Linked DNA regions of Homo sapiens. The protein of the gene in region 1 purifies or fractionates together with the protein of each later gene. This does not show direct contact. Each region holds a gene or a part of one and is shown on either strand. Other genes may lie near its edges. The genes, in order: NPAS2 and EDRF1.

What was found.
Region 2: the proteins of NPAS2 (region 1) and EDRF1 purify together in Homo sapiens (affinity purification with mass spectrometry; one large-scale study listed by BioGRID and IntAct). This does not show direct contact.

What each region holds. Positions count from the first base shown.
Region 1 is NC_000002.12:100,993,915-100,997,331, forward strand, and holds the end of NPAS2 (neuronal PAS domain-containing protein 2), read left to right. Parts: intron 1-509; exon of another isoform or gene 510-666; intron 667-1,485; coding exon 1,486-1,668; 3' UTR 1,669-1,881; coding exon of another isoform or gene 1,882-1,902; 3' UTR 1,903-2,915; downstream 2,916-3,417. UniProt on the Homo sapiens protein: Transcriptional activator which forms a core component of the circadian clock.
Region 2 is NC_000010.11:125,757,527-125,761,312, reverse strand, and holds part of EDRF1 (erythroid differentiation-related factor 1), read right to left. Parts: intron 1-3,786. UniProt on the Homo sapiens protein: Transcription factor involved in erythroid differentiation. Involved in transcriptional activation of the globin gene.

The DNA.
Region 1 (3,417 bases):
TCACATTTAGTTAAAGATCCATTAACCTGCCTTCATAAATACAGTGATGTGTGAAATTGGGCTTGCCAGGAAAATTTGGAGCTCATTTACATGTGGTCACTACTTCGAAGGCAAAAATTACTTCAAGCAAGTGCCAAGTATGTCAAAAGCAGGGAGGGTGAGAGCCACTGGTCCGCAGGTTCACGTGGGAGCCACACGTCTGCGTCTGCCAAGCTGCAGAAGGGCCTGGCCTTCCCTCACCCATGTGCAGGGTGCCCCTCTTCACCCCAGCCCTTCCCTGTCCTGGGGGGGCTTCCTCCCTGGCCTGCAGCCCCACCTGCACCTGCAAAGCCATGGAGAATGAGCAGTAGCTGAGACCTCTTGAGTACTGTAGATAGTGATGAAGATAGCTGTCCTTGAAGTTCTAGAACGTAATTTAATTCCAGTGCCGCTAAGCCATCTGTGCTATAATTTTCAGATCTCCCTGACCCCACACATAGTGGGAGTCAACTCAGACTTTGGCTTTGCAGATCTTGTCAGTTCTCGAGACCCAGAAGTGATTTTGGATGGGAAATGAGCAACAGACAAGTTTGCATGCACCTGTTGCAGACAAGATGCAGGCTATGAATACAGAGAGCGCTTCGGCCCACTCACTGCCCTTAGGGGCTTGGGGTGGGGTGCAGAGAGGTGGGTTAGCACAGAATGCAGTCAGGCTCGGATTTGGGAACAGTGGGAGTGCTGTGGTGGGGAAGCCTTTGTGGAGGAAGGGACTTGAGGAGAGGGAGGGCTCAGAAGGCACCCACTGCAGAGTCTGATGTCCAGGAAATGCCCGAAATGTGGGTGAGGGTGAAGATAAAGGGACAGTGTTCCAGCCAGACAGCCTGAGCAAAAGTTCAGGGCAGCTGTGCCTGGGCAGCTTTGAGAGCAGGGGGGTGCTGGGTTACTTGCAGGAGGAGATTTCATGGAAGGGAATAGTGGGTGATAAGACTGAAGTTTCCAAAGTCAGGCTTTGGTCAGTCAAAGCTTCTAAACTTCCAATCAAGATGCTCCTAGTAGGTGCTGGTGAATCTGGAGGTAGCTACGGGATCAGGGACCAGCAGTGAAAAGTGTACAAACTGTATGTGTGTTTGGATTCTGCCCTGTCAACTACCTGCATGTGGCCTCAGGTTCCATCATCCAAAAACATTGTGGCTACATGTAGATCATGTGCACGTGTTTACGAAACCATTCCCCATAGCCATAGCCACAGGCCTCAGTCGATTGGGCCAGAAGGTGCCCCCACTATTGGCGGAGAACTTAGCTTCAGAATTCACCCTAAGGTTCCCTTAGTCCCCATCCCCACCACACCCCCAGGTCTTGCCAGAGCCACCTCTCCCCACATGACCCCCCAAGAAAGACAGCCCTGTAGTCTAACTCAACCTGCAGCATGCCCCGCACTGCCTTGTAAGACAGTTGAGGAGCGGACATCAGAACCACCTCTGAAGCCCTTTGTTCTTTTTTTTCTAGGTACAGGCACCAACCTCTTTGCACAGTGAGCAGCAGGACTCGCTACTTCTCTCCACCTACTCACAACAGCCAGGGACCCTGGGCTACCCCCAACCACCCCCAGCACAGCCCCAGCCCCTACGTCCTCCCCGAAGGGTCAGCAGTCTGTCTGAGTCGTCAGGCCTCCAGCAGCCGCCCCGATAATGCCCCGGCACTGAAGTCGGGACACAATCAGCTTTAACCAATGGATGAGGGGGGTGGCCACAGGAGATGGGGAGAGGAGTCTGAACTAAACCCCTGGCTTTTGTGCACACTGCATACGTTTCAGAACTCCTGGATGGTAACCATCTCTGGAGTGCAGCGCTTGCTGCAGTGGAAATGATCAGGAATACTGACCGTGTTTCTCTTGCCTCCGAGGTTCTTGGGCACACTCTATAGCCATACTGGACAGGAACCAGGTGCCCCGTGTAGGCATCGTCGGTCGGTTTGCCGTCAGAGATGGCGCATCTCGCTGCATCCCCCGAGAGTACACCGGTTGCTCTAGCCACCTGCGGCCCGCCCATCTGCGCTAGCTGGCCTTCACGCTCTTGATCGTCTTTCCTTTGTATTGGAGAAGGACTGGGTCAGAGATCTGTTGGAGAGAGAGAATAAAGAGATTATTTTTCATTATTTTTAAATGGTTGTTTTTGTTTTAATTTGCACAGCTACACAGAGGAAATAACTTAGGCACTTTCTGTTTTTTTTAAAAAAATAATAAGGTCTCATGGCTTCATTTAGAGACCACAGTAACAACAGCAGCCCACCAATCAGAGAAGCTGGTTGTTATTAACCAAGCTACAGATTCACACTTTCTGGCCTAAACCCTAATGGGATGAGGCTTTTCACCCCAGGCCATGCTGGTGGTGATTTTTTAGCCCCTAAATAAAACACTGGACTATTTCCTGTTTACTTCATTGATTGCAACTACAAAGGTGGACTCAAAGCAAAGCACAATCATGCCAGCCAACATTCCAGAATTCTGCTGAGAACTCCAAGTCTGTGAGGGGAGAGGTTTTACAAGCCAGACAGGCCTGGGGGACTGCAGTCCCCAAGGAGACCCTGCCACATGCTGGCCCTTTGAGTGAGAATGCTGCATCTTTCTACATATCTTCATGAGAATACTGAGAATTGGATTTTCCTTTTCAAAATGCACTTTGCTTTTTTTGTATGTTTTGTTATGTTGAGATGTTTCTAAAGAAAAGATTTTATGTAATTATAAGATGAAGCGTAGTGAATTGTACAGCTGTTGTAATAATGACCTATTTCTATATAAAATAAAATTGTATGGCTTATGTGTAAATTATTTTGTATCTGAGATACCAGTTCCTTTTCCCAAATATAAAAGTATAAAAGTTTTCTTGTGTTTTTCTGTGAGTGAAAATTTTGTAATAAATTAACAAATTTGTACAATTTCCTCTGTCCCTTGTTATACATCCCTGCATACATCTTTTCACCAGTAATTCTTTTTTTCTAATTTCAAGATGTTTGAAGGATAATCAAAGATACGGAAAAGATGAAAGCAAGCCATCAGCTTTTTGAGCTGCAATATGTGCATCGGCCTATCAGGTTCTGATCTTTGTGTTAAAGTTTGTGCCCGAAAAACAAATGGTTTACTGTAGAAGTGACAGCAAAACAAAACAGAAAAAGTTTCTGGAAACATCTCAATCTTTTTTTTGTTTGTTTGTTTTGAGACAGCGTCTCTCTCTCTCTTGCCCAGCCTGGAGTGCAGTGGCACAATCTCGGCTCAATGTAAACTGTGCCTCCTGGTTCAAGTGATTCTCCTGCCTCAGCCTCCCGAGTAACTGGGATTACAGGCACCCACCACCATACCCCACTAATTTTTGTGTTTTTAGTAGAGACGGGGTTTCGCCATATTGGCCAGGCTGGTCTCGAACTCCTGACCTCAAGTGATCA
Region 2 (3,786 bases), on another chromosome or scaffold:
TTGGCCTAACAAACTGCTACTGCTAGAATTTCTAGCAGGTCAATGCCAATGCAGTTGTCATATGATGATGAAATGCCTGCATCACCTGAAAATGAAAACAAAAATTTTTTTTAAACAAGTAAAATGCATCTTTCACTCTAATTCTATAGGAATCTAATAAACTTAAGATTTTAATTATTAAGCCTTGTTTATTTTTTTGCCAGAGGGCATGAAGTGGAAAAAGCAGTAGTCAAAAAATAAAACAAAAATTTGTTTAACATGGCCTCTCAGTATCTGTGGAGGATTGGTTCCAGGACCCTCCAGGAAACTAAAATTTGAGGAGGCTGGAGTCCCTGATATAAAATGGTGCAGCATTTGCATTTAGGCTGTGTACATCTTCCTATATACTTTAAATCAACTCTAGATGACTTATAATACCTAATACAATGTCAATGCCATATAAATAGTTGTTATACTATATTGCTTTTTAAATTTGTATTATTTTTTATTTATTTAATATTTTCAGTCTGTGGTTGGTTGAATCTGTGGATGCAGAATCCTTGGATACAGAGGGCTGATTGCATTTTCTTTCTTTTAGGTCTCATTCTGATTTCTCTCTATATTGCAAAAGAGAATGTTCATGTATTCACTGTGAAACAACTAAGCCTGTGGCAGAGGGTATTTTCCTCTTAACAATAAAATTATAGATGTTTTCATTTGCACATCAGTGAAAAATGAAATAGTCACTGACTTAGTAATTAATATTTTTGTTTTGAAACTTGTCAAAGTGTTTATTTTATTAACACATTATCACATTTAAGTTTAATAAACCTTAAAATCAATATAAATTAGCTAAATAAGATTGTATGTGTCATGCATGAAAACTTTAGATTACAATAGTTTTCAGCAGAATATTAATAACCTAAATAAACAGAAGCTTAGAAAACCTTCCATTAAAATAAAAATTACTTAGGTCATACATATGACTGTTACAGTTATAAAAGATAAAACTGAAACTATTACCTATTACCAATTACTCAAATGATTGACTTGTGAAAAATCAATGAATCACTTTTTCTCATGTATCATATATTTATATTACCATCTTGTGGAAACCAATACAAATTTAAAAACTTTACCCACTGCTGTTAGAAAAAGGCAGGAATTCTTTCCAAGCCTTGTTACCATATGCAGTATCTGCTCCGCCTTAGGGCTCTTCAAAAAGATGGATGTCTCTGCTAAATTACAGTGAGTGTATCAACACCCGCTGCTGTGTACCACAACCAGGATATGGTGCAGACACTGTGGATTAACAACCAAATAAGGCCAGGCGCGGTGGCTCACACTTGTAATCCCGGCACTTTGGGAGGCTGAGGCAGGTGGATCATGAGGTCAGAAGATCGAGACCATCCTGGCTAACACGGTGAAACCCCGTCTCTACTAAAAATACAAAAAATTAGCCGGGTGTGGTGGCGGATGCCTGTAGTCCCAGCTACTCGGGAGGCTGAGGCAGGAGAATGGCGTGAACCTGGGAGGCGGAGCTTGCAGTGAGCCGAGATTGCGCCACTGCACTCCAGCGTGGGCGACAGAGCGAGACTCTGTCTCAAAAAAAAAAATAAATAAAAATAAAAACACACACAACCAAATAAAAGCTCTCCTTAGACTATAGAGAATTATTCAAAAGCCATTTTTTTTCTTTTTTTTAAAGAGTTGGGTTTTGCTCTGTCTCCCAGGCTGGAGTGCAGTGGTGCCATCAGAGCTTGCTGTGGCCTTGAACTCCTGGGTTCATGTAATTCTCCTGCCTCAGTCTCCCAAATAGCTGGGATCACAGGTGTAAGCCATGGCACTTAGTTCAAAGGCAATTATTGAAAGAAGTTTCTATTCATGGTGCAGAACCGGAAAAAGTCTCTGGCTCAAGCAGGGCAAACTACAAGGTCATGGCTCTTCTTAAATCCATGAGAGAGGTGGGGCAGCCAACTAGCCTGCAATCTAAGGAGAGACAGGCTGATACAGGGAGAGAAAGGACAGTCCTTCCTTACCTGGGGCAGATGCAGCCAGATGCCAGTAAGCATTTAGCTAAAATAGTGAATGGGTTGGTGGGGGCCCAGTGAGGCTGGTGAGAAAGTATAGGGCCTCTGTGGAGTCAGGGGGTTCACATCTTCTTACTGGCTTTTCTCCAAGGACCTCACCAAATGCCCACATAAAAGACCAGTGAGAATCCTGACAGACTGACCCTCCTGCTGTAGACCTATGACAGGGTAACAGCAGCTGCTATGGGAGGGACCAGCAACCCCACCTGGACCCTTCTCCTCTATGAAACAAAAGACTCAATGGGGGTGGGGGAAGACAATGAACCCTGCCAACCTTAGGGCGTTGGTTAAAGTCAATGAAGAGAGGGGAAGGGAACAGAAAAAAACACTCTGAAGGGTTAGGTGGGGGTGCAGGAGCAGTGGGAAGGCCACAGTCCTGAGACTCAGGGACACGAGTGTCTGCCTGGACTGAGGCTTAAACAACTATGGAGTCCTTGCTAACTCCCTGCTCCCTCCCAAACAGGCGAAAAGGCACCGAAGGACCAGTGACAGTGGAATATGGCTGGAAGAACTGTGAGAGTATAAAGACAGACCCTCTCTAAGGTGCAAAACAAAAGAAAGACCTAGAGCTGAAGGTAGAGAAGACACTAAGAATCACCTTCTGCAGATCTGTTCCACCCTACACACGAGGACTGCTAGGAAAACTTGAAGCCTGTGGTACATGGAAGGTAACCATCGCAATAAAAAAATCTCAACCACAGCTCAACTCCAGGCTAGAAAAATGAATTCCACTTCCCACACTAAAGCCGTAGCAGGGGGAAAGTACAAAAAATTCCAGGCAAAAAAAAAATATTTCTCTTGGTCTCTACTATCATACATAAGGTGTCCAGTTTTCAACAAACAAGAGATATACGGAAGGCAAGGAAAAAACAACATACTTCCAAGAGACAAAGAATCAACAGAACCAGCTAATTATGACACAGATGTTGGAACTATCTCATAGGGAATTTAAAAGGACTATAATTAGTATGTTCAAGACACTAATGGACAAGATGGATGCCACGCAAGGTCAGATTGGTGATTTCAGCAGAGAGCTGGAACTGTAAGAATGAACCCAGGGCAATTGCTAGAAATAAGGAACATTGTAACAGAGACAAAGAATGCCTTCAAAAAGTTCAACTGTAGATGACACAAAACCAAGTAAGGAATCCATGAACTTGAAGACAGTTCAACAGAAATTACCCAAACAAAATCACAAAAAGGAAAAAATGGCATCAAAAAAACCAGAACGGAATATCCAAGAGCTGTGGAATAACATCAAACAGTCTAACATAGGCATAACGGGCTACAGAGGAGGAGAGAGAATGGAACAGAAGAAAGAAAAATGCTGAAGCCAGAGGTAAAAGCCATCACGACACACTCAAGCCTATCATAGTTAAACTGCTGGGGGGTGAGGCGCCTACAGGCAAGGAAGATGCATTTCTAACAGATGAACAAAAGTAGGAAACACAGCTGGCTTCTGGTCAGAAAACACACAGGCCAGAGACAATGGAGTGACATCTTTAAAGTACTGAATGAAAAGGACTGTTAACCCAGAATTCTATACTCTGCTCAAAGATCTTCCAAGACTGAAAAAAGAATAAAAACTCTCTCAATTGAAAAGATAGAATTCATTGCTAGCACACCTACAAATGCTAAATGCTAAAAGTTTTTCAGGCAGAAGGAATATGATGCTAGACAGAAACCTACACAAAAAGTAAGAGTACTGAAATGGAAT